5 separate regions of the Homo sapiens genome follow, and all the other regions are linked to region 4. The links come from fine-mapping of genetic effects on gene expression. A gene starts in region 4. Each other region holds a variant in brackets. All regions are shown on one strand. Distances are from middle to middle.

What was found. PIP is the estimated chance that this variant, and not a neighbour inherited with it, causes the effect.
Region 1: its variant is fine-mapped to the expression of ARHGAP21 in regulatory T cells (Bossini-Castillo 2019, PIP 0.95).
Region 2: its variant is fine-mapped to the expression of ARHGAP21 in follicular helper T cells (Schmiedel 2018, PIP 0.94).
Region 3: its variant is fine-mapped to the expression of ARHGAP21 in whole blood (TOPMed, PIP above 0.99).
Region 5: its variant is fine-mapped to the expression of ARHGAP21 in monocytes after LPS (Quach 2016, PIP 0.95). The same link has a PIP of 0.9 or more in monocytes, monocytes after Pam3CSK4 and monocytes after R848.

Annotation. Positions count from the first base shown.
Region 1 is chr10:24,267,830-24,273,966 of GRCh38, forward strand. All of the region lies in intron 2 of KIAA1217, which reads left to right. Among named protein-coding and RNA genes, the nearest start is that of MIR603, 4.8 kb to the right of the region's middle. The variant A/G (reference allele first, on the strand shown) is at 3,070.
Region 2 is chr10:24,626,022-24,632,158 of GRCh38, forward strand. It overlaps ARHGAP21 (Rho GTPase activating protein 21), which reads right to left. Exons shown (of 26, transcript NM_020824.4): 7 at 3,975-4,029. Among named protein-coding and RNA genes, the nearest start is that of ARHGAP21, 95 kb to the right of the region's middle. The variant C/CAT (reference allele first, on the strand shown) is at 2,795.
Region 3 is chr10:24,579,035-24,585,171 of GRCh38, forward strand. ARHGAP21 (Rho GTPase activating protein 21) reads right to left here. Exons shown (of 26, transcript NM_020824.4): 26 at 4,580-6,137. The coding sequence ends at 5,378. Among named protein-coding and RNA genes, the nearest start is that of ARHGAP21, 140 kb to the right of the region's middle. RefSeq lists an enhancer at 815-1,316. The variant CT/C (reference allele first, on the strand shown) is at 3,325.
Region 4 is chr10:24,721,478-24,727,614 of GRCh38, forward strand. It overlaps ARHGAP21 (Rho GTPase activating protein 21), which reads right to left and starts at 2,410. Exons shown (of 26, transcript NM_020824.4): 1 at 2,085-2,410; 2 at 360-802. The coding sequence starts at 422. RefSeq lists silencers at 1,190-1,499, 1,560-1,919, 1,940-2,019, 2,110-2,179, 2,210-2,399 and 1 more and an enhancer at 1,943-2,853.
Region 5 is chr10:24,919,367-24,925,503 of GRCh38, forward strand. The region is part of intron 3 of PRTFDC1 (phosphoribosyl transferase domain containing 1); the gene reads right to left. Among named protein-coding and RNA genes, the nearest start is that of PRTFDC1, 30 kb to the right of the region's middle. RefSeq lists an enhancer at 2,094-2,238 and a cis regulatory region at 2,161-2,171. The variant A/G (reference allele first, on the strand shown) is at 3,142.

The DNA of each region.
Region 1 (6,137 bases), 450 kb before region 4:
TTCTACTCACACTGCTGCATGGTTTGCCTAAGAGTACTCCATAGATGGACTATTGAAATTTGGGTGTGGGTTAAATTTTCATAAATCAAATTTCATTTCCCATTATCTTACACCTAATTAAAGAGATAATGTGCCTTCTGATGACCCTGTAATTGGCAGTTGTAACTGGCCCTTTAACTTTGTTTCCCTGCGCTGCAGCTCCTGTCTCCAGCAGTTAGTTCATCATCTGTACACTAACAGTAAGCTACGCGGGCAGGCACTATTTTAAAAAACACACACAAAGCTGTCTGTGAATGGCAAAGGAATCAGAGCAAGTCATTACTCTCTAGTTCATTTGGCTAGAAAGGTCAGGTCGCCTATATTGACTTTTCATGAAAACTAGGCGAACTAGTAGTTTTCATGCACAATATGTCAACAACCTGTTATATTTGAAATTCTTTTTAAATTAGGTGGGTGAATGGTGTAAAACTTCACTATATTTTCTCCCTGCCTGTTAATTGACTTGCTAATCTCCTGCCAATATATGTCCATTTTAAAAAACAAACAACCCCATCAAAAAGTGGGCAAAGGACATGAACAGACACTTCTCAAAAGAAGACATTTATGCAGCCAAAAAACACATGAAAAAATGCTCATCATCACTGGCCATCAGAGAAATGCAAATCAAAACCACTATGAGGTATCATCTCACACCAGTTAGAATGGCAATCATTAAAAAGTCAGGAAACAACAGGTGCTGGAGAGGATGTGGAGAAATAGGAACACTTTTACACTGTTGGTGGGACTGTAAACTAGTTCAACCATTGTGGAAGTCAGCGTGGAGATTCCTCAGGGATCTAGAACTAGAAATACCATTTGACCCAGCCATCCCATTACTGGGTATATACCCAAAGGACTATAAATCATGCTGCTATAAAGACACATGCACACGTATGTTTATTGCGGCATTATTCACAATAGCAAAGACTTGGAACCAACCCAAATGTCCAACAATGATAGACTGGATTAAGAAAATGTGGCATATATACACCATGGAATACTATGCAGCCATAAAAAATGATGAGTTCATGTCCTTTGTAGGGACATGGATGAAATTGGAAATCATCATTCTCAGTAAACTATCGCAAGGACAAAAAACCAAACACCGCATATTCTCACTCATAGGTGGGAATTGAACAATGAGATCACATGGACACAGGAAGGGGAATATCACACTCTGGGGACTGTGGTGGGGTGGGGGGAGGGGGGAAGGATAGCATTGGGAGATATACCTAATGCTAGATGACGAGTTAGTGGGTGCAGCGCACCAGCATGGCACATGTATACATATGTAACTAACCTGCACAATGTGCACATGTACCCTAAAAGTTAAAGTATAATTAAAAAAAAAAAAAAAAAAAAAAAGGATTGTGGCCTGGCGCAGTGGTTCACACTTGTAATCTCAACAGTTTGGGAGACCGAGGTGAGAAGATCACTGGAGGCCAGGAGTTTGAGACCACCCTGGGCAACAGAGCAAGATCCTTTCTCTACAAAAAAGTAAAACATATGAGGCGGCCTGTTGGCACACATTTGTAGTCCTAGCTACTCGGGAGGCTGAGGTGGAAGGATGGCTTGAGCCCTGGAGTTTGAGGCTGCTGTGAGCCATGACCGTGCCACTGTACTCCAGCTTGGGCAACAGAGTGATTCCCTGACTTAAAAAACAAAAAGATTGCTTTAAACATTCATCAAAAAACAGAGCAAATTACACTTTGGCAGAAACATGAAGGCTAATACTTGAATCCAAGCACCCATTCCCTCTGGGCTTACCACACTGAAGGCAAAATGAGTGGGGTTGGTTTTTCTCCTCAAGAAATGTTGTTCTGGGACAGTGAGTCATTGGTTTTTGTTCTTGCAACCCTTCATCATCTAACAGGTTTGGTTAACTCAAGAAGTTCTAGGAAATGTTCAAACACTGCAGATATTTATCAAGGGGCATTTTTAGGAGTAGCAGAGTGTCAAGAACTCAAATTGACATCTAGTGGCAACACTTCTAAAGATTGGGGCCCCGTACTATATACAATGCTAAATTTCCAATGCTGTGATTGGAAAAGACTATGAGAAGGCCTCTAGTCTCTTCCCACTACCATCATCTGCAGCAGGCCCACACCACCCAAATCAACACAGGTATGGAAGAATCGCCCCCTGCCACAGGAGTGGGCAGTAAGCGTTAGAACACAGATTGCCGAGTTCTGGTTCTCAGTCCACCCAAGTCTGGTCTGTTTCCCTAACTGTAGAAGGAAGGTGTTAGAAATGGAAAATCCTTAATATATTCTTTGATTTTTTCAAAACAGAATAATTGATTTTTATCATCTTTCTTAGTATACCTTTCACGTTCTGCACAATTATTCTAGATTCAAACTGAAGATTGTGGTTCATGTCAAGAGTCAGTTTGGTCACTGAACACTGTCTCATCCAGCTGTGGGACACTCATATGAGCTTGGTCATAGGTGGCTCATCTTCCCCCACTTACTGGGTTTCCATAATGCCATTCTCTTGGGCTGTTAGATAAAATATTTACAACCCATCCCTCCATCATCATCAAAGCAATTTATTTGCACAAACTCCACTGTCACTAAATCACATGAATGCATCCATCTTTCTTATTTTCATCTTTTTGAAAATTAGCCAGCATGAAAAATAACAGCAATCGATTAAGCTATTGCATTGTGAAGAGTAGCTTAGATTTCTTTCTTTCTTTTTTTCACCCTGTTGCCCAGGCTGGAGTGCAGTGGTGCGATTTCAGCTCACTGCAACCTCTGCCTCCCAGGTTCAAGAGATTCTCCTGCCTCAGCCGCCTAAGTAACTGAGATTACGGGCGCCTGCCTCCACACCCAGCTAATTTTTGTTTTATTTTTTTTAGTAGTTATGGGGTTTCACCATGTTACCCAGGCTGGTCTCGAACTCCTGACCTCAAGTAATCCACCTGCCTTGGCCTCCCAAGGTGATGGGATCATAGGCATGAGCCACTGCACCCAGCCAGATTTCTTTCTTTTGATGATATTTGGGAGTAACTGTGGAATGTGTCCCCCC[A/G]CCTATATCATACAGCAATATTTTTTTGATCTACAAAGCACACCATATACTTCACTATTTATTCTGCTGAGGGGAAATGGGTGAGACTGCCAGATTTCTATGAGAATTACAGGGTTTTCAAGTCATTATGGAGAAAATGATTGAGGTTCAGTGTCATTGGAAAAAGCATATTCTTAATTTGTCTATAATTTTTCCTTTAATTGGTAGTTTGGCTCCATTTTCAAAGTACTTTTGAAGCTTTCTTTTCCAATTTGGCATCAAAGTTATTTTTCTAAGTGCCATTCAATTTGGGACTTATTTTCTATTTTGATTGACATAAAATATGTCATTCTGAAAGGAAAAATATCAACACAGTTTTTGAGTAAGAAACTCAGTAACATTGAACTTAGTAATCACCTCCCTAGGAGTGAAATTTCATGGTCATATATATTGAAAAAACCTCACAATATAACCAACATGCTATCTGAATCTTGATTGAGATTCCACATCATAAGTGCTAATTTCAGTTCTGACTATAACCAATTTGTTAGTTTATACTTACTCTTTACTAAAGGAAAGAAGAGTAGGAATAGGATGGTGCGGTGGCTCACACCTGTAATTCTAGCACTTTGGGAGGCCGAGGTGGGTAGATCACATGAACCCAGGAGTTCAAGACCAGCGTGGGCAACGTGGCAAAACCCCATCTCTGCAAAAAATTATAATAATTAGCCAGGCGTGGTGGCATGTACTTGTAGTCCCAGGTACTGGAGAGGCTGAGGTGGAAGGATCACCTGAGCCTGGGGAGGTTGAGGCTGCAGTGTGTCGAGATTGTGCCACTGCACTTCAGCCTGGGTGACAGAGTGAGACCCTGTCTTAAAAAAAAAAAAGAGTGAGAATAATGAAACTGTGCACACGCAGGCCTTTTAATAAACTTTCCCCCTGTACGCAGCCCATTCTAGCTATATATATTTCTTGGTCCCAGCCTCTTCAAATAAAAATTGTTTTATTCAAAAGTATGACCTAGCCTTATACAAGATAAGATAGCCCACTTAAAAGTGGCATAAAAGGCCACTTTTATGCATCTCCATTTTAGGTTGGTTACAAGAGGCACAGAGAGACCAAAGCCCATGGGATGCTCGTGAGAGTAGGAAATTGGGTGGGAAGGGTGGACTCGGGAGACAACCTGACATCTCTCTACTTGAAGCCTAGCAATAAGGTTCAAAGGTTCCTCATGCCTTGTTTTCCCTTCTCTCTACATGATTAAGATCCCATTCCTGTAACAGATAGCAATGTGTTTATGCAGTAAAATTAGATAAGGGAGATTACTAGGGAAGTCACTACTCAGTTAGGGATGTCAGTGGTGCTCACTGCAGGTCCAGGTTAGTAATAAGAACTCTGGACTAGTAGCTAGGAGTGCTTGAATCTAGATTAGTTCTACTTTCTAACTCGATGTGTGACATTTTTTCCACTTAATTTTTTTGGCCTTGGTTATCTTATTGGAAAAAATATTCAAGTTGCACAAATAACTAAATGATGCCTGAGTTTTCATTCAGTTCTAAAACTTCTCAACTGAGCAATCTGTTGTTGAAAGGAGAGTACGAGTTCTAAAAGCTACTCTAGGGAGCTCTGCATTCACCAAGCCGCTCCATCATTGTTGGGAAGAAAATACTAAGGTTGACTCATTGTCAAAGCCACATTCTACTCAAACTCAATGTACATAACTCGAATTCTAGCCACATTCCAGCCAAATTGAGATAGCTGTTCAAATAGTCATGGATTTATTTAATAACTGACTTCGAAATTCTTTACTTCTTTCAAGGTGGCATTAACAAGTATTTCGGAATTTCAACAGAGATCGGTTTTCACGTGCTCTTCAATGATCCCTGTGAAATAAATCATATTCAAGGGTTTTTTTCCCCTTATGAGTTATTCGCCTGAAGGAAGAATTCTTCATTTCTTTTTCTTTTAAATGCATGTTGGAATAAAGTCTTCTTTGAAAAGTCTTAATGAAAAGAGCAAACGTGGAATAGCATCCACCCCAGTTCTTTCTCTGGTCCTTGCACTCTGAGAATGAAGTCTTAGACAGCAGAATGTCAGGGGACTCTCATTGCGTAAAAGTCTGTGCCCTTCTGCGCCTTGGACAGTTATGGACAGAAGCCTTTAAGAAGAAGAAAATTAAAACTAGTTAATTTTTTAGTTAATTTTAGCAACACTACATATATGAGAGAGAGAAAAGATGGCATTTTCTGAATGAATGAGATGCCTCTGCATTTTGCCCAACTCATTGGAGACTCAGGATAGAGAAAAGGGAGAAATTATGTTTAGAGGCTGATAAATTTCCCTATGGTTACTATCAAGAGATCAGACTCTTATTAACATTTGCAAAGTGTGAGCAGAGAAGAGCATTTGAACAATAAGCATAGATTAAGTACTCCTCTTTCCTTCATTCCCTTTTCTCTAGTCATATTCTCAGACAGTCCAGGCTAAGTATTAATGATCTTCTTTGAAGTTAAACATACCCTTGCTACTTTCATTACATTATTATTTTTATGTTCTTCCTTTTGGAGTACTCAAGGTAAATGACATGGCAGAATCTGTCCCAGTCCAGTGAGGGTGTCACATAAGAGGCCCTTGGCTTACCTCTATGCATAACTGGCCCACGTCACATCTTTAATTAGAAGTCCAAGTTATTGGCTGGACGCCATGGCTCATGCCTGTAATCCAAGCACTTTGGGAGGCCAAGGTGGGTGGATCACCTGAGGTCAGGAGTTCGAGACCAGCCTGGCCAACATAGTGAAACCCTGTCTCTACTAAAAATGCAAATATCAGCCGGGTGTGGTGGCACATGCCTGTAATCACAGCTACTCGGGAGGCTTGAGGCTGGAGAATCGCCTGAGCACACGAGATGGAGGTTGCAGTGAGCCGAGATCGTGCCACTGTGTTCTAGCCTGGGCGACAGAACAAGACTCTGTCTCAAAAAAAAAAAAAAAGTCCAAGTTACTGTTGCAGGGATTGGGACATCTTGCCTTTCTCAAGTTGAGCAATATTCCCAAATATAAAAATGTAGGATCTTAGTCCAATCAGAGCAG
Region 2 (6,137 bases), 95 kb before region 4:
CTTTCTTCCTTATTATACCAGACATGCTGTTTAACTTTGCTGTGTTTAACATAGAACAGCATAAAGTAGGTTTAAAATGTCCTGGCCAAATATTAGTTATACCCAAGAATCTCCAGAGTTATAAAAACCGATTAACTTAAAATTTAATCTTTGAGTCAATGGAGCCAAATGCTTAACAAAGTATCCTGGGTGATGAACCAAGAAGTATGCCCCGATCTAGTTCTCCTACCACTATCTCACTCAGGGAAGTATTCTCTTTGGTCAGTGCTACGGTCTGAATGTTTGTGTGTTCCCCTCCCCTAATTCGTATGTTGACACTTAATCACCAGTGTGAATGAGTTAGGAGATGGGGCCTCTGGGAGATGATTAGGTCATGAGGGTAGACCTCATGTATGAAATTAGTGTCCTTATAAAAGAAGCCACAGAGAGCTGCGTCAGCTCTTCCACCAAGTGAAGACACAGTGAAAAGGTACTATCTATGAGAAAATGGGCCCTCACGAGACACCAAATCTACCTGAGCCTTGACCTTGGGCTTCCCAGCCTCCAGAATATGAGAAATAAATTTCTTTGTTTATAGGCCATCCAGTCTAAGGTATTTTGTTACAGCAGCCCAAATAGACTAAGAGAGTCAGCATCATTGTTTAGGTGACCAGACTGGTGTGGCTATTTCACTCATGCATAGATAACATTTAATGGGGAAACAAAATCATTTTGGTTTTTGGAAATACAATAAAAAACCTTTTTATTTTGCAATAAACACGAACCTGTCTAAGATACCAGAGTCTAAAATATTACAACAAAATACTGTTAAAATGATTAAAATGAATGTAATACTATTTATATTGTTAACCTAGAAAATATATGCTGGTTTAAAAAATGAGGCTGCCAAGCACAGGACTCCTATTACTAGCACTAGTTTAAAAACATAAATGAATTATTCTTAATTTTACTTCATGGTTTTAAACATTCTATCATTGTCATCCATGAATTATGAAACCTATAATCATATACCTGTCCTTACACGAGTCAAATTTTAAGCCAAATTAAATTTTCTAGGCCACCTCTCAAAGGTGAGCAGAGCACTTCTAAAATAATTTGGTCTGTATATCACTTCAGGAAAAGAAAAAAAACCTCCATGCACTACCCAATCCTGTTGCCCAGGCAAACATATACAACCTACAAGTGTTTCCATGGGTAAATGATTTTTACAGTGGCTGTAAAAATGTTCACATTACCCATTGCTTTTCTTTACAATAAATATTCAACCTCATGGGAACAAATACATCTTTAAAAGCATATATTTTGAATAACAGATTTAAGATCTGCATAAGTACTTCTGAAGTACATTAAAGAACATTTTAACTCTGGAATATATGTTAGAGACAGAAAATTATATATTCCTTTGATTTCTTAATGAATTACACTACATTCAAATGTGAATTAAGGTTAAAAAGTAGAGTTTTCTTTTATGATTAAAGGCATGTACTTTTATTTCTTAATGATTAAAGTAATTCAAATACCATGTTTTAAAAATAAATTTTATGTTACAGTATACCAGAACTCTTTACTGCTGAGCCTTGAAGATCTGCATGCTCATGTTATTTACTGAACTGGTTTTTCTCTGTCTCTGGGATACTTTATATTTTACTTTTACTTTAGATTTACTTAAATAAAATTTAACAAGACAGACTATTCTAGAATATGAATGAGTAACAGAACAAAACTAATTTTTCTTTAAGTGACCTCTTTTTCCATTAATCATATCATTACAAAATTACTCCTTCCATTACATGAAGTGGTTTGCTGCTCTTCATCAATCACACTGCAGGATATCATGGCGATTCTGCATTTAATTGCTTCCATGCCAGCCATTCTGTGAAATGAGCACTGTTCCAAGAGCCATCCAACCAGTACCTTCACCTTGGCAAGGAAAGGGTCTACTGAAGATCGGAAAACAGTTCAGTTTCATAAGCTGATTCTGTCTTCAAGCCTTCAGATTGCAAGGAGGAAGCCAGGTAAATCCTTCGCTACCATATACACCATCTTCTGTATAAGAAGAGCACTAGAGAAGAATTCCCTATTTATTTCTAGTCTAGTTATTTTCATAGCCATTGGTGTCTGTGGTTATGTCTGCTACATGATCACTATGCTGAATTGTCAGGGTAGGAACTCTACAACCACTTTTGCATGTCTAGGAAAATTACTGCAGCAAACTGTATCTTCCTTCCTGAGCCTCCCAACTCCAACTGAACTGTGTACTTCAGAAGGGTAATTGTTATCGGTACTAAGCCATTCCTAAGTAAAATCTACATGCCTTGAAAACATGGGGTTAATCCCCATGAGTTTCACTTAATTATAGTTTACATGTCAGTGAATGACTCTTTAGGATCGGCTTTAGTGATTTTTTTTTTTATAAAACATGTTTACAGATTATTTATGGCCTTTGATGAGCTAAGTTCAAACTACTGCCTTACAAATGAAGAACATTACTATACCATTTCCATTACCACGACAAAGAGTCCATCAGCTCCCTGCTTTTCTTGAATTTAGCTATAGGTAATAAGAAAAAAACCCAATTGTTTACCAAAAAGAATTAAAAATAAATACTTCAGCGGCCACTGCCATTTCCTAGATCTGTTAGTTGTAAGTATGTTACTTAAAGAGTTTTTCTATTTTATTCTACAGAACTGCAAAATCAATTGAAGGAAAATGTTATTTTCTTGAATGAAATATGTGTGTGTGTGTGTGTGCATATATATATACACACATATATACACATATATACATATATATA[C/CAT]ATATACACACATATATGTACATATATACACATACATATATATACACATATATACATACATATATACACATATATATACATACATATATACACATATATACACATATATATACATACATATATATACACACACACACTATATATATATATATATATATATATATATATTTTTTTTTTTTTTTTTTTTTTTTTTTTTTTGAGATGAAGTTTTGCTGTTTCACCCAGGCTGGAGTGCAGTGGCGCGATCTTGGCTCACTGCAACCTCTGCCTTCCGGTTTCAAGCGATTCTCCTGTCTCAGCCTCCCAAGTAGCTGGGATTACAGGTGCCCACCACAATGCCCAGCTAATTTTTGTATTTAGTAGAGATAGGGTAGAGATAGGGTTTCACCACATTGGCCAGGCTAGTCTCGAACTCCTGACCTCATGATCCGCCCGCCTCGGCCTCCCAAAGTGCTGGGATTACAGGCGTGAGCCACCGTGCCCAGATGAAATTTATATTTTTATCATCAGCAGTATTTAAGCTTAGTAAAGGAGTTAAGTATTCTATTCAATTTCTTTCTTTATAAAAATCAGAAAAATATTTTAGACTAAATACTAAAGTTTTCAAGTTTCATTTCAAGACCATAACATATTTTCCCCTTAAGTTGTAGACTCCGTTCATTGTGAACATTTTAGGAACGAATTGATACTACTAACAATACTGCTTGGTGAATTTACAAACGTAATATTTATTGGAAAATTAGAAAATGGCAATCATAAAGTTTGTCCTCGTATTACAAAAATAAGATTCTATTTTTTTTTTTTCTCTGTACATAGTGAGAAGGAAAAAAAAAAAGATTCTAATTCCTGGGGATATGCACTTGCACTCTAAACTCTTCCTTTGGTCCAAGGATGAACTAGAAGGCAACACTAGGACAAACTCTTTAGGAATCTCATTCTAAATGAGAGCATTAAGAGTTCACTGTAGAATCAACATAACATTTCCATGTCACTTAATTGCAAAAACTTGGCAATGGTATTTTTGTAAAATGTAGAGAATTCCAGATTCTGTAAAAGGAACCAGAGGGTTTTTAAATTCTAGAATTTTTTTTAAATTCCATCTTTAATACTTCCATCTCAAAAATATTTTCCGAACATTCATGACTGTAAAACAACTCATATATGAATAAATAAAACTTACCACTTGGAGAATGTCTTCATCTTTTGGCATAACACTAAGTTCCAATGTTGTATCACTGAAATTGAATTATATACTATTTTAGGAGAGGTAGAAGTGTATAAAAAAAGACTTAATGGAAAAACAGTTAACTCAGAAGTATTTTTTAAATTGTTTAAGAGTTTATTCTGGTTTTCTTATATCTTAATTTTTAAAATCAAATCATTAGAATGAAAAGAAGTCACCTTTGTATACGTAAGTTAACTATATACAAAAGAGGGACGGACCCCTGCCATGTTTGTGCTATTCATAATCAGTAAAGTTTTCTTTATAACATGTTTCTAATTTAGAAATATAAAGTATGTTGCTTATATTAAATAGTCCCAGGACAAACTCTTAACAATATCAGTATACAATTATTTATTGTTTTATTCAAGTCACAAAACAAATTATAGATTGTTGTCATATATTCTGTTCAAGTTAAAATTCATTAACATCAAAGAACCCTCAAACTTAATATTTTAAGTAATTTTTTTTTTAGACTGAGTCTCACACTGTCACCCCGGCTGGAGTGCAGTGGCGCAATCTTGGCTCACTGCAACCTCTGCCTCCTGGGTCTAAGCCATTCTCATGCCTCAGCTTCCCAAGTAGCTGGGACTACAGGGCATGTGCCACCATACCCAGCTAATTTTTCTATTTTTAGTAGAGAGGAGGGCTCACCACATTGGCCATGCTGATCTGGAATTCCTGACCTCAAGGGACCTGCCCACTTCAGCCTCCCAAAGTGCTGGGATTACAGGCGTGAGCCACTGTGCCCAGCCAAGTAATATTAAACATCTTAATTTTGCAATATTCCCTCCTGGCCTCAGAAGTGAAGGAAATCGCTTTACTGTCACAACTACTGAGCTGACTCATTTTTAATAACTATATAACATTTCAACTATTTGCTTTTTTCCCTATGATTTACTTTTAGTGCCTTTACAGGGACAGCTCAAAGTCTAATTTTATTTTGGTTCTGTAAATTTCCTGTTGAAAATGATAGAGAAATTTCCCTAAGTTTAGAAAGTTCAAAGGGGTAAACAAAACTGAATCCTGTGATCTGGAGGTACATACAGATATGGCAAAGGTGCCGGGCGAAGTGGCTTACGTTCCCAGGCCAAGGTGGGTGGATCACTTGAGGTCAGGAGTTCGAGACCAGCCTGGCCAACATGTTGAAAACTCGTCTCCACTAAAAATACAAAAATTAGCTGGACGTGGTGGCAGGTGCCTGTAATCCCAGCTTCTCAGGAGGCTGAGGCAGGAGAATTGCTTGAACCTGGGAGGCGGACATTGCAGTGAGCTGAGATCATGCCATTGCATTCCAGCCTGGGCAACAAGAGTGAAACTCCCTCTCAAAAAAGAAATAATAAAATAAAATAAAATAAAAGTTATGGCAAAGGCAGTGCTACTATCTCCACCAAATGCTTCAACAGCTAATCTAACAATATCAGACATATTTTCCCCCAATACAGTCAAGAGATTAAGAAACAATCAACAACAAAAAACAAAATAATCTACTGGTGTCTCTTCTTGACAGATTTGAATCATTATGTTTAGTTTCATAAATGCTCAGATTATACTAAACCCATGAGAACCACAGGTTCAAATAAATTTAACTAGTAAAATATGTAGGTACTTTCATTTCAATATTTAGAGTTGGTAGAAACTGATGTTTAGATAAACTCCTGTGCAAGGACACATCTGTTTGTTTGTTGTTTTTGTTTTGAGACAGGGTCTCACTCTGACACTCAGGCTAGAGTGCAGTGGCTCTATCAAGGTTCACTTGATTAACCTCACTTGACTGACCTCCTGGACTCAGGTGATCCTCCCACCTCAGCCTCCCAAGTATCTGGGACAACAGACACACACCAGCACGCCCAGCTAATTTTTTGTAGAGACAGGGTTTCACCATGTTGCCCAGGCTGGTATCAAACTCCTAGGCTCAAGTGATCGGCCCACCTCAGCCTCCTAAAATGCTGGGATTACAGGCATGAGCCACTGCACCCAGCCCACAAGGACACATGTTATATTAATCCACTGCAGAATCTCAAGGGCTTTGTGGTGCATTACCCATTTGCTACCAACTGCAGACAGAAGAAAAACAACACTTTTAATGGAAATAAGATTATGAAAAAATATTTCTCTAAT
Region 3 (6,137 bases), 140 kb before region 4:
GTGTGCCAGCTATCTTCCTGCCAATTGTTCTAGGCATGGAATACACCAGTAAACCAAAGACCTCTACCCTTGTGGGGCTTACAGTCTTGTGGATAATTGACATATAAGGCAGTAGTTATGTATCAGGCACTTTATTAGCCCTGACATACTCATTACATCCTTGATAGACACTACTGTCTCTAAGTGCCAGAGCTAGGATCTGAAGTAAGTTAGCCTGCCAACTCTCAGAATCCCAGCTAACTACTGTATTACATCTACTGCCTTCCTTATTGCCTTAGTGAAGAATGTGCCATGAAATGTTTTTGCTTAAACATGTATGTGATGATCCTAAGACATTGTTATGTGTAATGAATTGACTTTTTTTCTACGGATCTAACGTACTGGATAGGTACCATCCATCCTTGGAAGAATTTTGAGAATAGCTACTCAAATCACTTTCTGTGTTGTGTGGTCAGATGAGAAAGCCTGAGTGGGCAGAGATGGTACCACTGTGCTCTAGCTTGGGTGACAGAGTGAGACCCTGTCTCAAAAAAACAAAAAAGTAACAAAAAGTGAGGTACAGTGATTCCACCTTCTGGGGAAGTTTAACCATACCTTAAAATCTAATGCTGACTAGGTGAAATTCAGACAATGTCATACATGAGCACCTAGTTTTTTGCTTTGTTCTGTTGGTAGATTTTTACAACTGCCATCTTCATTCTACTCTCAGAAAGTAAAGGTTTCAAGACATGTTTTGTTTTGTGTCTGTAAGAAAGCATCTTCAGGACCCCATGGTCAACAAATTTGACAATCGATAAATCTTTATGTCCAATTCCCAATATTTTCCTTTTGTAACTGCTTCATTGGAAGGTTTGAGCATATATTATACTGTCTAAACCTTCTCCTTGGCTGGACAAAACTAAGCTTCCTTCTGCTTTGTATTTCCTTCTACTGTCCTAAGATGCTGTTCCAGCTCTCGTGGTATTTAGCTTTCATAGCAGGGATGCTGGGAGGTCTGTGTAACAGATGCTCTTCCCCTAGTACAACTCCCCTCCTTCCTTCCTTCCTGGGCAGCCAGCTGAGATGCCTGTTACAATTGGCTCCTACTGTTCTCTGTTGCACAAATCAGTCAGCTAAAGCAGCCCTGCTGGTGTCGTATGGTTTAACCTTGCTACAGTGAAATGGCAAGTAGGGACATTTGATTGTCTTGCATACGAATCCAGGGATCTGACATTTTGTAGCAAAAAGCTCATCAAAAACGACCAGAGGAAAAGATAATCCTGCCATTCTACCTAATATCAGTCACAAAATGAACTCCAGCACATGAAAACGAACTTTAAGCCTACTAGAAAACAAATATATACCATATGTCTGTGGATAGGGAAGTATTTTTTAGCGGTTCTCAAAATACACATATAAAAGCCAACAAATGGGGATAAATAAAATTTAAAACTATGCAAAGAAACACCTGAAACAAAGTTTAAAAACTATAGACTGAAAGAGGGGATTTGAAATTAAGATTAGTATCCAAATCTTGTAAAGATCTGTGAGGAAAAAAACAACAGAAATATGATCAAAGGTTCACATAGCTGGACGCAATGGCTCATGCCTGTAATCCCAGCACGTTGGGAGGCTGAGGCGGGAGGACTCCCTGAGCTCAGGAGTTCAAGACCAGCCTGTCCAACATGGTGAAACCCCGTCTCTACTAAAAATACAAAAAATTAGCCAGGTGTGATGGCGCGTGGCTGTAATCTCAGTTACGCGGAAGACTGAGGCAGGAGAATTGCTTGAATCTGGGAGGTGGAGGTTGCAGTGAGCTGAGATCACGCCACTTCACTCCAGCCTGGTGACAGAGCGAGACTGTGTCGTCACCAAAAAAAAAAAAAAAAAAAAAAAAAAAAAAAAAAAAACTTAGTTGGAAACCAGAATAGCCAATGAACATCTGAAACGTGGTCTCTGCCCTAGTAATGCAGGAAATGTAAACCAGTGAGAGATCTCACACCCATCAACTTTGTTTTAAAAACAAAATTTTTAAACACTGACAGTACCCTACTGTCCTTGAGGAAGTGAAGAGATGAGAATCCTCGTACACTGCCGGCGAACTCTGGAGATTAATTTGACAAAACCTAGTAAAGCTGCAATGTGCCAGGTCGGTGCAGTGGCTCACACCTGTAATCGCAGCACTTTGGGAGACCAAGACAGGCAAATCGCTTGAGCCCAGGCATTTGAGACCAGCCTGGGCAACATGATGAAACCTGGTCTCTACAAAAAAATACACAAAGTAGAATCCAATTTAAATTATATTCAGTTAAGTCAAGGATGTCCATGAAAAGAACATATAAATATGCTAATAGGAGGAAATGGTATAATAAAAATATTAATCCAAAAGAGGCAAGAAACAAGAGAAAAGGGTAGGTAAAATGCCCTGGTCATGGAGAAAATGAATGGTTCAGCTGTAGATGTGAATCCAAACACATAAATAATCATATTAAATGTAACTGGGTTACATATTCCAACTAAGAGACTATGTTTAAAGAAAATCTATATGCTGTTATGAGAAAAATACAAAAGGATTAATACGGATGGAAATGATGTATTATGCAAATACTAACCAAAAGTAACTAATATAGCTACATTAATATATAAAATAAGGTAATAAAGCTTTGGTTGAGACTCATTATGAAGGACATTTCATAATAGAAGGGTCAATCTACCACAAAGACGTAACAATTCTAAATTTATGTTCACTTAGTAAACTAACTTCAAAATAAAAGATTGACATAAAAGATATGCAAATCTACATTCATATCATAATATTCTATCACTTCTCAGGAACTGGTAAGAGCCAGGGAAGAAATCTATAATGATCTAGATCTGTAAAACATGATTAAATTTGACCTAATACACCAAATAAAAAGCATCCAGTAAGGATAGAAACATATTCTTTTCAAGTAGACGTGTTATTTCTCAAAATTGACCATATAGTGGGGTCAAAATGGATGTCTCAATTTCAAATGTATGTTTAATGATAATGTAACATTATGCTGGAGTCAACATAACCAGAAAGTTTTCAAATGTTTGGAAATTAAGCAATACATTGCTAAATAACTCACAGGTTAAAGAAAAAAATCAGAATGCAAACTAGAAAGCATTTTGAAATGAATGATAATAAAAATACAGCATATAGCCTTAAAATGAAGATATTAGAAAACAACTAAAAATCAATTTTCCAAGCAATCGTCTCAAGAAATTAAAAAGTCGAGCAAATTATAGCCAAAGAAAGGTTGGGCGTGGTGACTCATGCCGGTAATCCCAGTACTTTGGGAGGCCAAGGCGGGCGGATCG[CT/C]TTGAGCCTCGGAGTTTGAGATGAGCCTGGGCAACATGGAGAAAGCCCATCTCTACAAAAAATACAAAAAAAAAAAAGTTAGCTGGGCATGGTGGCATGTGCCTGTCAGTCGCAGCTCTGCAGTGAACTGTGATGATCGTACCACTGTACTCCAGCCTGGGCAATAGACTGATAGTGAGACTCTCTCTCAAAAGAAAAAAAAATATAGAAAAAATGAGGAGCAAGAACAAATAATATAAAACTATTTGAGCCTTGAAAGTAACTTTTAAAACATATAAGTAAAAAGTGTTTTTGACACTTTTAATAATACACTGCAAGAACTCCCCCTCATGTAAACTAAGGGAAGTGTGTGCTTTGTTTTGTTCAAAACTTTAAAAGCAGAGCATGACTCCTAGTAAAATCTCATCGCCAGCAGCAAACTATTCATGGTACCATCTCCATGTGTAGTTACCATTGTTAGTGACTCTATATACTGGAGCAAACATCTGACTATTCCATTATATTATTTTCATGATGTAGTTGTACCTGAGCATTTGCATATTGAAAAATTTATTTTATTATAAATCACTTTCATTTTTCTTTTATAATAGGGGATTATGGTCTATATCATAACATACTCAATGTAAAGTTATATTTAGATATATTATGAATTTCATGATGGTAAAGGGGAAATCTCAAAATACTTTTAAGAAAGTATCATGTTTGACAGTTGACAATCTCTGGATTTGATGACTGTTAAGGTCCTTCTCAGCCTTAACAGTCTGAGATTTTTTTGTAACCATTACTTCCAACAATAGCTTTGTTCTATTTTGAAACTAGTGTGTGGCAGGCACTGTAAGTGGAACAGTATCTCATTTAAATCTAATCACCCTTATAATAGGTAGTGTTACTGTAACTAACTGTTTATATGAGAAAACAAATTCAGAGAAGTTAAATAATGTGTTCAAGTTCACATACCTAGGTAGAGCTGGACTGACTCCAAACTCATGTTCGTTTCACTCACGAAAAGAACATTAACATAACATACATTACTTTACCTAGAAGAGTTAAACACTATCAGTCAACAAGTGAGGTTAGGCTAATGTAAGCATCTGTAAGAAAGAGTCTCTACCCACCACAGCAAGAAAGAGGAGAAGATGGAATGTATAAATATAGTAGGCACCTTTTTAAAGTCAGGACCAATTAATCATGTAAGGTAGTTATAAATGGATGACATCTAAAAATATATCAGAATAAGTTTCAAGCCATGCAAAATTCACCAAAACAATTTTTATTTCCAGTGTTTAATTGGGTATGCACACAGGCATGACACAGGTTTGGATTCATTAAGTCCTCATGCAGAATTATATTCTTCTCGATAAAGAAGCCAGTTCCATCCAGGATCCACTATCTACACACCTATGTTACAACATTATATCAAATCTGGTATCTGAAGAAAAGATACACATTTAATATGTTCATTTAAGTTACGTATTTTACAGAAAGATTAAAAATTCAAGTCACACAAAACTCAAAAACTGTATTAAAAGTTTGAATATAAAACTCAGATCCACCTGGAATGACTAAAGAATGGAAGTTCTGTATCCACCTGTGTTAAAACTGGTAAATGTAATGATATCTGTTACCAATAAAACGCATTCGTTTATTCAATGTAAGTAAGTTATCTAATTTTAACAATATGGCACCCTAAAAACCAACTGTATTTTTATGATGAGGCACTTTTGTTAGTGATGAAACCAAAAGAACAAATTTGCTGCACACTGATGCCAGCGATTTTCTTCAGTGATTTTGGGTATATGCTATGTAGTAAGTTGCAACAAATACCTTGCTCATTTGTATACAACTATCCGATATATTTTTAAATATATATATATATATATATGTTCTTCTGGCTGTAGTAATGCACTGTAAAGCTATTTCACAGTGCAAAATGATGAAACCAGCCCAAATGAAGGCTGCATAATAACAATTCTGATACAAGAAAATATTGACAGAGTTACTGGAACGTGTAACAGTAGTTTTTTTACTTGCTAGAGTGGACATACCCCCAGTTTAAAGACAGGGATGAAACTCTGCTTTACTGCCTGGGGTTTCAGACAGTTTATGAGGTTGGGCATTCGCTGCAGAACTAGCATTTTTGCTCACGTTCTGGAAGCTTTCTCCGTTTATTTGGTCAGGTGACTGTGGTGGTATGGAAAGAAGGGGCCTGTTTGTTGAAGCCAAGGTGCTGGAAGAACTGCCTGTGTTGCAATGAAGAGACAAAGGTGTGTCGGTCGTGGCTATTTCTCGTGTGCTTGGGTTCTCTGTCTGGGGATCTCCGATTTCTCCTCTGCTAAGGTCAGAGGTACTGGTGCGTAGGCGTTCCCTGGCCAGCCAGTCTGAGATGGAAAGGTCCTGGGCTGAGCATTTTGGTTTTAACCGGTTTACAGCTGAAAGTTCAGATTCTCTCTCCCCGCTCTGCTCATGCACTTTCCAAAAATTCAAAACGCTGATTTCGGTAGCATCTCTGTGCCCTCCTAGTGTATGTCTGCGCCGGATGCTTTTCCTTTTAGCAGTCTCGGCATTCACTTTGTGATTCCCTACTCCAAACATGTCATCCGCAGGGGCTCTGGGTCTCAGTTTTAACCGATCTGCTATTTTCGTTTTCCATGTGGGTTCCTGTTTTTCGGATTCGCCTCTGGTGGGTGTCAGTAAACTCCCAGTTGACTTTCCTTTTTTCATAACATCAAACACTTTAGTTAACGAAGGTGCTTCTTTCTCATTCTTGGCATCTCCTAGACTTCCACTATCTGACTTGAATCTAGCTGATTTT
Region 4 (6,137 bases):
TCAACTCCAAATATCTCGGAAGGGGACTGAAGGAAAACGGATACTGAGGTGCCCATTCTCAGGCTTGTAGCATCCACAGCCACAGAGACGGGAGAATTCCTGGCTCTGAGAAGGGGTGACCAAGATGAGGACATTCCAAACTGCGGGACATGTTCTTGCAAAAGAAACACGGGAGTCCCTGGAAACAGACGTGGGCCAGGCTTCTCCTCGCTACTGGTTAAGCTGGGGCGCTCCCGCCAACAGGCTCAAAGCCCCGGGAAGCCCCTAGTGAGGCCCCGTGGCCGGTAACCCCCAACTTGCAGGACGCTCAAGACACAGGCCACCGCCCTGCCGGCCAGGAACGCTGGCTCCGCGCTTACCTCGCAGGCCTTGAGCTTGTCACCATCTCCCTCAGACAGACCAGTCCGACGCGTGGCCATCATTTCATTTCAAATGACAAAGAAGGGACAAATCCTTTGGAGTCCACATTGGACGTGGCGGGGAATGCCACCACACACCCGAAGGGGAAGAATTCCACAAGCAGGCTCCGAGGAGGGGCAGGGCTGTTGAAACAGACAACGTGCCAGGGAATAAAGGTTTTCAGGAAGCGCCTTCAAATGCCTCGCTGATTTCTCGTGACTTCAACTGACTTCGCCTTCTTCTTCCATTTCTGGAGACTTAAAAACAAAGGCGACAGGTCTTCTTGGCAGCCAGTGTCGAGGCCAATTGCAGAAAGCGGTCCCCTTCTTCCCAGTGCCACTCCTGAGTCCTGGAAAAATCCGAATGGGTCGTGAAGGTTCGAGTGTCAGCTCCTAGAGAGATCCTAGGAAAACGAGAAGTTAAAGGTCATGAACTTTCTCCAGGCGCCTATCACTGTCTTGCCCACATGTCCACACCAAGTTCGCGTTTCCTCCCGAGCAAAACAAACAAAAAAAAATTTTAACGTAAACAAACAAAAAGCCTATAAATTCGAGGGGGTGTTTAAAAAAGAGAAATCTCGAAACTGCCCAGCGGTTGCGTCAAACACACCTGGCTGTTATGCAGCCTTCAAGAAAAAATGTTCCCCATTCAAGTGCATTTTAATTCATGTCTTTCCTGGGTAGAGCAGAGGGCTGTGCATGTTGTTTTCTGCATCACCCAGACAGGGACACTTCGGTGAAGTTTTCTCCCCCACGAGGCTGAAATGGGATCACACTTTCCAAGCCCCCTCTTCGCTCCCCTCCGCCCCCCAAAAACGCAAGCACAAAGCCAGCCTGGCTGGGGCCGGCGTGGGCTCGGCGGCGTCTCCGGGTGACTCGGGCGCCGCCCCTCCGCCCCTCCGCCCCGGCCGGCGTCCCCGAGGAGGCGGCTGTTTTCCTTGGCCCGCGGCGGGGCTGGGTGGGGACGGCCGGGGAGGCGTGCGCGGCCGCGGGTGGGACGCCGGCGCCGCTCCCGCTCCAGGGCATGATTCTGGAGCTACACCCGAGCAACTCTGAAGTCGCGGCTTTTCCCCCAACTACCACTCGACACGGCTTCCCTTCCCCTGTGGCCACCTAGGGGGAAAAAACGAGAAAAAGCAAACCACCACCCACCTCCCCACGATTCCCCCGCCCCTTCCTGAGGCGGGTCGGGGACCTCGAGCTCCCGAGGAGAGCGGCCCCAATATGGACTTTCTCAAAGGTGCTAGGAGCCCCGGGGCGAGACAAAACCGGGGGCCTTACCCTTCCCGCCCGCTCGGGCCCGGCGGCCGAAGCGCGGCGGCGAGCTGAAGCGGAGACGCTGGCCGGGCGCCGGGCCCGGCCGGGACGCGCTAGGCCGCAGGCTCGGTTAATATTCATGAGCGGCCCCAGGCGCCCCTCCTCCAAGGCTGGCCGGCCGGACCCCAGCGCCCACCGCCGGCCTTTGTGCCCTTCCCTCCGCCCCGCCGCCCGCCCTTGCTCCGCACACGCGGGCGCGGCCCCTCCGCCCCCGCCGGGCGCCCGCCGCGGGCTCCCTCCGGCCCCGAGCCAGCGCCCGGCCGGGTGGCCTGTGGCGGGAAGGGAGAGAGCCCGCGGCAAGCCGGGCACTCCACGGCCCGCGAGCGCAGCGCCCTCTCGGCTGAGACGGAAAAGAAACCAGACACGCACCAGAGGAAGCGGGACGAGTGGATCCGCACGGGGCTGGCCGGCTCCGGGACAGCGCGCCCCGCCCGCCCGCCCGGCGTGAGCCGGACCCCGCAGCCGGACGATCCCGCGCTGCCCGCCGCCGCCGCCGCCGCCGCCGCCGCGCTCCGAGGCCGCCGCCCCCGGCCGGCCGCTCCCAGGCACCGCCGCGACCTGCCCCGGCCGGCCCCGGGCTCTCGGCCGCCGCAGGAGGGCGTGGGGCGGGGCGGCGGCCGCCGGACTCTCCCCTCGCCTCGCCGGGCCGGGCCGGGGCCCAGCTCCGGCGCCCGCGAACGCCAAGTGACAGAAGCGCCTCGCTCCGTGGCCGCGCGGAGCTGTTTCCCGGGGGCGGATTTCTCGCTTCTTCCTCCCTGGATCCACCTCCTCCCACTCCACCTCCTTCCCCTCCCCTCCCCAGGGGAGGCTCTGGGGCTGAATATTTTCTGTCTTGAATAACACGGGACCGGGGAACCGACGCTGGAGAAGGGGGATTAGCCGGAGGCCGGAGCGGGGTGCTCGCCTGCCCCCTCCCCGTGGGTCGCGGGACCTACAAGCCCTCGCCCCCCAGCACCCCAAAACCAGGCACACAACGCTCCCCGCCCCTGCAGTCTCCCAAGCGCTGAACGGCAGCGTCCAGGGATGGGCTTGCTCCCGGGAAAGGAGACCTGGTGGTAGACGTCTGGGGTGGAGAGGGGGACAAGCCTATAACAGCGACATCTGCAGACTCCAGGGATCAAAGGTCCTAGATTGGGGGACAGGGCTTGGCAAATTGTGCCCCCACCCCTTTTTTGCAGCGGGAAGGCAATGAAGCTGCGACGAGACGTGGGACTTCCAGATAAGGGAGTGTCCCCTCACGCCTCACAGCAAAAATCTCTTCCTGTGGTGGGAAGGGGGAAGTTAGCCAAGCGTTGCTCATTCAGTTCTTTCCCTTTTATAAATTCTGCAGAGCGGCTGAGCGAATTTGGCGCGGCTAGCGGAACTGTGGAGAGGCGGCTGCGCTTCTCTGTCCGCCACACTCCAGGTCACAGCGGCTCCGGAGCCGCGGCACAACCGCCACCCTCCCCACCCAATTCCCGGGCCTTGTCACAGACCCCGGCAGCTCGCTCCGCCCCGCCGTGCCTCACAACATCTCCCGCTGCAAATTACCCAATCGGGAGACGCGACGAGAGAACGCGAACCAATCAGGGGCTGGTAAATCAGGCTTCCCTCCGCCCTCTTCCCCGCCCCCGGGTGAAGGCCACCGCCCCCTCGGCCTCTCCTTCCCACCCCGCCCCGCTCCGGGGAGGTGGCTCCCCGGCTCCGAGCCTCGCGGGGCTGGAGGGGGAGTTGCTCGCAGTCAGAGGCAGCGTTTGTCACCTTGTCACCCTCATCCTCGCCCCCTCCCATACACACTCCCCTCCCCTTCTCGGTGCTCCTGCTGGTGCTGTTGAGGGTCATTTTTATCCTCACTGCGGCCGGGGACTGCCAGCTATTGTGTCTGATCAGCTGCCACCGCTGTCCAGAGGGAAAAAAAGAAGAACAAAACCTAGAAACTGTGGAGTCCTCTTACCTTTTCCTTCTTTCTTTCTACACTCTCCCCTGTAGACTTAGAAACATCCCTTCTCCTTCCCCGCCCGCCCACCACCTGAGGTCCTGTTTCTTTATGGGGGACAGGGGAGCGGGGACAAAAAACACTCCCTGCAGCTGGAGTACCTGCGCCTTAGTTTTTACATCTTCCTTAAAGTGGAAGGTGCCAAACCAAATCTACAACTAAATCCTCCGCTTCAATTCGAGGGAAGACGTTGACGAGATCATTTTTATATGGCCATGAAATTTGCGTGTTCTTGACAGCCTGTCACCAAACAAGTCAGCTAATAATCAAGAAAAGAAAAATAGAATAAAATACAAGGACTGTATTTCAGTCAGATGGTAATTTACTAAATAGCCCAGTGGCTGTAGCAGTATCCAGTGCTAGATACAATTGAGTAAATTAACAAGAAGTGAATAGAAATTCAGGGTTCAAGTAGCTCACCGCTTGTGGGCTTATAGAATATGTCCAGAAAGGAAAAACAACTTACAGCACAAAACAACTCCTTGCACATGCAAATGTGCATGCATGGCATGAACGGCGTACCTAACAGCTGAGGACTTTTGGGTTAAAATTTTTGCACTAGAAATTTTTTAAATGTTGATTGTGAAATTTTCAGTTTGATAAAGGAGAGTAAAATGTGGGCCATGAAAGGAGAAGGAAAAGGAAGGAAAACACATTCTAGGAATTATGGAAAAATAACATAACCTAGAGAGGCAATATTTCTATAAGAGGTAATAAGATGTAAGGATCAAGATTACAATCCAACTCCATCATTTACCACGTAACTTAGGGAAAATTATGACTTATGTGTCTAAGTACTAGAGCTATCAAATTCAATACCTCCTGCTAGGTACTCCTCTAAAAGCTTTACACACAACATATTGAGATAGGTGGGTGGTGAAGCAAGGATTCAAGCCCAGGGGATCTGGCTCCAGAGTCCATTCTTTTATTCACAACACTATACTAGGCTGGGCCCAGTGGCTTATGCCTGTAATCCCAGCACTTTGGGAGGCTGAGGTGGGAGGATCGCTTGAGTCCAGGAGTTTGAGACCAGCGTGGACAACATAGGGAGACCCGTCTGTACAAACAAAAAGTTAGCTGGGCGTGGTGGCATGTGCCTGTAGTCCCAGCTACAAAGGAGGCTGTGAGGCAGGAGGATCGCTTGAGCCCAGCAGTTCAAGGCTGCAGTGAGCCCTGTCCAAGTGTGGCACTCTAGCTAGGGCAACAGAGCCAGACTGTGTCTCAAAAAATAATAAATAAATAAATAAATAAATAAATCACTGTACTACCTCTTAATATGGGTTTTTAATAATAACAGCTAACACTTAACTTACTATGTGTGAATTATTGTGGTCTTTGAGTGCCAATTTAACTCTACTCCTGGGACAAATATAATTGTGATGTTCTAAAATTTGGGAATGTTTTTAAGAACTGTTATGATAAGTTACTATCTTAGGTATCTTAAGTGTATTAGGCTATCTGTACGGAGAAGTGCAAAGGCACACAGCTAAGATTTGAAAAACCTGTGTCCTGGGCTTCTACAGGACCTCTGAGTTGTAACAGCATCCTCCCTGTCTTGCTGGACTGTTAAAGAGAATCAAATGAGATAATAGATGTGAAGAAATTTTAAGGCCAGGTGCGGTGGCTTATGCCTGTAATCTCAGCACTTTGGCAGGCCCAGGCAGGAGGACCACTTGAGCCCATGAGTTCAACAAGCCTGGGCAACATAACGGGGCCCTATATCTATAAAAAAATTTTTTTTTAATTAGCCAGGTGTGGTGGCCAATGCCTGTGGTCCCAGCTACTTGGAAAGCTAAGGTGTGAGGATCGCTTGAGCCCAGGAGGTCAAAGCTGCAGTGAGTCTTGATCACACCAGCGCACTCCAGCCTGGGCAACAGAAGACACTTTTAAAACGTAAAAAACATTATTTCAATCAAAATATTATGGGCTGGGCATGATGGCTCATGTCTGTAATCCCAGCACTTTGGGAGGCCAAGGCGGGCGGATCACTTAAGGCCGGGAGTTCAAGACTAACCTGGGCAACATGGTGAAACCCCTTCTCTACTGAAAATACAAAAATTAGCCTGGCGTGGTGGCACGTGCCTGTAATCCCAGCTGCTTGAGAGGCTGAGGCATGAGAATCCCTTGAGCCCGGGAGGAAGAGGTTGGAGTGAGCCGAGATTGCGCCACTGCACTCCAGCCTGGGTGACAGAGCGAGACTCCATCTCAAAAAATAAAATATTACTATAAAGCAGAAGTTTGTACTATTTCCCCAACAGGAACCCTACTGTTTATAACATTTTATTGATACTGTTTAGGAATATATGAACCCAGTTAAAAATTAGGTCTATTCCTTTCTGAAGCCATGAACAAGAATATTTTAATATCAGCTCTCATTTGGATGCTTTTTTGTGTTTGTTTGTTTTGTTCGTTTTTGTTTTTGAGATGAGGTCCACTCTGTCACCAGG
Region 5 (6,137 bases), 200 kb after region 4:
AAACAAGCAATAGGGAAAGGACTCCCTGTTTAATAAATGGTGCTGGGAGAACTGGTTAGCCATGTGCAGAAAATTGAAACTGCACCCCTTCCTTATATCTTATACAAAAATTAACTCCAGATGGATTAAAGACTTAAATGGAAAACCCAAAACTATAAAAACTCTAGGAGAAAATCTAGGCAATACCAGTCAGGACATAGGCATGGGCCAAGATTTCATGACAAAAACATCAAAAGCAATTGCAACAAAAGCACAAATTGACAAATGGGATCTAATTAAACTGAAGAGCTTCCACACAGCAAAAGAAACTATTGTCAGAGTGAACAGACAACTTATAGATGGGAGAAAATTTTTGCAATCTATGCATCTGACAAAGGGCTAATATCCAGAATCTACAAGGGACTTAAACAAATTTACATTAAAAAAAAACCATTAAAAATGGGCAAAGGACATGAACAGACACTTCTCAAAAGAAGACATTTAAGTGGCCAACAAACATGAAAAAAAACTCAACATCACAAATCATTAGAGAAATGCAAATCAAGACCACAATGAGATACCATCTCATGCCAGTCAGAATGGTGATTATCAAAAAGTCAAGAAACGATAGATGCTGGTGAGGCTATGGAGAAATAGGAAAGCTTTTACCCTGTTGGTGGGAATGTAAATTAGTTCAACCATTATGGAAGACAGTGCGGCAATCCCTCAGAGACTTAGAATCAGAAATACCATTTGACCCAGTAATCCCATGGCTGGGTATATACTCAAAGGAATATAATAAATCATTCTATTATAAAGATACATGCACACTTATGTTCACTGAAGCACTATTCACAATAGCAAAGACATGGAATCAACCCAAATGCCCATCAATGATAGACTGGATAAATAAAATGTTATATATATATGTGTATATATATATGAGTGTGTGTGTATATATATATGTGTGTGTATATATATATATACCATGGAATACTATGCAGCCATCAAAAGGAAGGAGATCATGTCCTTTGCAGGAACATAGGTGGAGCTTGAAGCCATTATAGTCAGCAAACTAATGCAGGAACAGAAAACCAAGCACCACATGTTCTCATTTACAAGTGGGAGCTGAACAATGAGAACACATGGACACAAGGAGGGGAACAACACACACTAGGTCCTGTTGGGGATGGAAGATGCGGCGACAGCATCAGGATAAATAGCTAACACATGTGGGGCTTAATACCTAGGTGATGGGTTGATAGATGCAGCAAATCACCATGGCACACATTTACCTATGTAACAAACCTGCACGTCCTGCACATGTATCCTGGAACTTAAAATAAAATTCAATTTTTTTTTCAAAAAAGGAAATAAGTCATTCTAGTAGATGTATTCTGCATAGAGTAGTCTAACAGTACTGCTGATGGAAAAATAACTATCCCTGAAAAAGTCTACAATAATCTATCCATTTGATATATATTTAAATTTATCCATTAAAAGAAACAAACATGGAATTCCATAATGGTTTTCAAAATAAAATATTTCACTAATCTTCTAAAATTACTAACAATTCTGTTACAGGAACACTGCCTCAAAGCATCTAAAATGGTATTCTGTTTTGCAGATCTAAATTGACCTACACTGAAAGTAAGTAGCTTTTGCTTTAAGTATAGGAATAAAACAAGAATATGTCACTTTCATGGTTAAGTATTTCCCTGCCTACAACACAGCGGTTACAAGTGATTAAAAAAAAAACAAAAAAACAAAAAACAAAGGTGTCATTATCACTTCCTGAGTGATCAGGGCTCAGATATCGCTGGAGTAAGGGGTATGTTTAAAAATCATTTTTGTCCTAAGAAATTATCTTAATATGAAGATGAGGGAGAATATCACACATTTTCATTTCTCAGATCTCTTACACACGCCAATGTGAATTTTGGAAGTGTGAGTTGGGGCAGACTTCTGAGCCTGCCTTCTAGCTATCTTTCCTAATTAGAGGAGGATCCACACCCCAAAACAACACACAGAGGTCTATAGGGCACCAAAGCCCCCATCCCGGTCCTTCAACAGGGACTCCTGAGAGCTGCAGAGAGGAAGGAGTCATTCCAGGCCTCGATGATCACATGCTAACCAACACTTCCCACTGCTGTATTAGATTAGCATTTTTAGCAAAAGTACTGCTGACTCATCACCAACTGCTGGCCTTTTCCTTTCCACTCCTGCCTAGTCATTCCTCTCTGTGGCGTGGGCTGTGGGGGCCCTTGACGTACTGTTGTGCCCTTTTCCTCACCAAGAGTCATCCTGTTTTTAATGACATTATTCTCCTATTTGTCAATGTCTGTTTGAGTTCATTTCTGTTCTCTAGGAAAAAAAAAAAAAAAAAGCTAGGCAAACAAAAAAATGTCAAAACTGTCCTCCTCCAAATGAATCCCAAATTAATAAGTAGAAAATTAAATAATTCTTGTCCTTGAAAGCTACAGATTGTAAGCATGTTGAATTACCTGAGTGATTAACAATAATGCTGTGTTTAATAATGGCAAACTCATGCAAGAAAGGAATATACACTATGGGTTAAAACGACAATAAAACCATTAAACTCAAACTTTATTATAGTACAATGAGCATCATAAACAATTGTCAAAGGCATTATTTTTCCATAAATATTTTCCCCAAACCATTTTATTATATATCCAACTGTGTTGCTTTTTCCCACCAAATCCAAATTATTTCCTGGTAACTTTCCTAGACTTTAAAGTTCATGTGTTTTATAAAATACAAATGGAATATGTAATCTCAAAAAGATTTTCCTGGTCTTGATGCTAAATTTTACATTCTATATCAGTTACAAAATGTTGATAAAAATAACCTAACATAAAATAAGGATAATTGTTAATATTTTGCTGCCTGCAATTATTTTCCTGCAGAAAATGAGAAATTATCTGGGCATAATTAATAAAATACATCATTAGATCCTTTTTGGAAAAGATCAGGTATATATCAGTTAAACTGATTACCGCATTGATATGGTTTGGCTCTGTGCGCTTACACAAGTCTCACCTTGAATTGTAATAATCTCCATGTGTCATGGGAGGGACCCTGTGGGAAGTAATTGAATCACAGGGGTGGGGTTTTCCCATGCTGTTCTCATGATAGTGAATA[A/G]GTCTCATGAGATCTGATGGTTTTATAAAGGAGAGTTCCCCTGCATATGCCCTCTTGCCTGCCACCATGTAAGATATGATTTTGCCCCTAATTTGCCTTCTGCCATGATTGTGAGGCCTCCCCAGCCATATGGAACTGTGAGTCCATTAAACCTCTTTCCTGGGTCGCTTCCAAGATGGCTGAATAGGAACAGCTCCAGTCTGCAGCTCCCAGCATGATTGATGCAGAAGATGGGTGATTTCTGCATTTCCAACTGAGGTAGCTGGTTCATCTTATTGGGACGGGTTGGACAGTGGGTGCGGCCCATAGGGGGCAAGCCGAAGTGGGGTGGGGCATTGCCTCACCTGGAAGCACAAGGAGTTGGGTGATTTCCCTTTCCTAGCCAAGGGAAGCTGTGACAGACTGTACCTGGAGGAACCGTACACTTCTGTCCAAATACTGCACTTTTCCCACAGTCTTAGCAACTGGCAGACAAAGAGATTCCATCCTGTCTGTGCCTGGCTCAGCAGTCCCATGCCCATGGAGCCTTGCTCACTGCTAGCACAGCAGTCGGAAATCAACCTGTGATGCTGTAGCTGGGCAGTGGGAGGGTCGTCCACCATTGCTGAGGCTTCAGTATGTAAACAAAGTGGCTGGGAAGCTCAAACTGGGCAGAGCCCACCACAGCTCAGCAAGGCCTACCGCCTCTCTAGACTCCACCTCTGTGGGCAGGGTATAGCTGAACAAAAGGCAGCAGTCAACTTCTGCAGACTTAAACATCCCCGTCTGATAGCTCTGAAGAGAGCAGTGGTTCTCCCAGCACAGCATTCGAGCTCTGAGAACGGACAGACTGCCTCCTCAATTGGGTCCCTGACCCCCATTTAGCCTGACTGGGAGACACTCCCAAAAGGGGCCGACAGACACCTCATACAGGTGGGTGCCCTTCTGGAATGAAGCTTCCAGAGGAAGGATCAGGCAGCAATATTTGCTGTTCTGCAGCCTCCGCTGGTGATACCCAGGTAAACGGGGTCTGGAGTGGACCTCCAGCAAACTAAACAGACCCGCAGCTGAGGGGCCTGTTAGAAGGAAAACTAGCAAACAGAAAGGAATAGCAACAACATCAACAAAAAGGACATCCACACCAAAACCCCATCTGTAGGTCACCAACATCAAAGACCAAAGGTAGATAAAACCACAAAGACGGGGAGAAACCAGAGCAGAAAAGCTGAAAATTCCAAAAACCAGAGTTCTTCTTCTCCTCCAAAGGATCGCAGCTCCTCACCAGCAATGGAACAAAACTGGACAGAGAATGAGTTTGAGGAGTTGACAGAAGTAGGTTTCAGAAGGTCGGTAATAACAAACTTCTCTGAGCTAAAGGAACATGTTCTAACTCATCGCAAGGAAGCTAAAAACCTTGAAAAAAGGTTAGATAAATGGCTAACTAGAATAAACAGTGTAGAGAAGAACTTAAATGACCTGATGGAGCTGAAAACCACAGTACGAGAACTTCGTGACGCATGCACAAGCTTCAATAGCTGATTCGATCAAGTAGAAGAAACGATATCAGTGATTGAAGATCAAATTAATGAAATAAAGTGAGAAGACAAGATTAGAGAAAAAAGAGTGAAAAGAAACGAACACAGTCTCCAAGAAATATAGGACTATGTGAAAAGACCAAATCTATGTTTGATTGGTGTACCTGAAAGTGATGGGGAGAATGAAACCAAGTTAGAAAACACTCTTCAGGATATTACCCAGGAGAACTTCCCCAACCTAGCAAGGCAGGCCAACATTCAAATTCAGGAAATACAGAGAACACCACAAAGATACTCCTCGAGAAGAGCAACCCCAAGACACATAATTGTCAGATTCATCAAGGTTGAAATGAAGGAAAAAATGTTAAGGGCAGCCAGAGAGAAAGGTTGGGTTACCCACAAAGGGAAGCCCATCAGACTAACAGCAACAAAAGCCAAAATAGACAAATGGGATCTAATTAAACTAAAGAGCTTCTGCACAGCAAAAGAAACTATCATCAGAGTGAACAGACAACCTACAGAATGGGAGAAAAATTTTGCAATCTACCCATCTGACAAAGGGCTAATATCCAGAATCTACAAAGAACTTAAACAAATTTACAAGAAAAAACAACCCCATCAAAAAGTGGGCAAAAGACATGAACAGACACTTCTCAAAAGAAGACATTTATGCAGCCAACAGACACATGAAAAAAAAATGCTCATCATCACTGGTCATCAGAGAAATGCAAATCAAAACCACAATGAGATAACATCTCACTCCAGTTAGAATGGCTATCATTAAAAAGTCAGGAAACAACAGATGCTGGAGAGGATATGGAGAAATAGGAACACTTTTACATTGTTGGTGGGAGTGTAAATTAGTTCAACTATTGTGGAAGACAGTGTGGTGATTCCTCAAGGATCTAGAACTAGAAATACCTTTGACCCAGGGATCCCATTACTGGGTATATACCCAAAGGATTATAAATCATGCTACTATAAAGACACATGCACACATATGTTTATTGTGGCACTCTTCACAATAGCAAAGACTTGGAACCAACTCAAATGTCCATCAATGATAGACTGGATTAAGAAAATGTGGCACATATACACTATGGAATACTATGCAGCCATAAAAAAGGATGAGTTCATGTCCTTTGCAGGGACATGGATGAGGCTGGAAACCATCATTTTTAGCAAACTATCACAAGGACAGAAAACCAAACACTGCATGTTCTCACTCATAGGTGGGAGTTGAACAATGAGAACACATGGACACAGGGCGGGGAACATCACACATTGAGGCCTGTGGAGGGGGTGTCGGGGGCTGGCGGAGGGATAGCATTAGGAGAAATAACTAATGTAAATGTCGAGTCAATGGGTGCAGCAAACCAACATGGCACATGTATACCTATGTAACAAACCTGCACATTGTGCACATGTACCCTAGAACTTAAAATATAATTAAAAAAATAAATAAACCTCTTTCCTTTATAA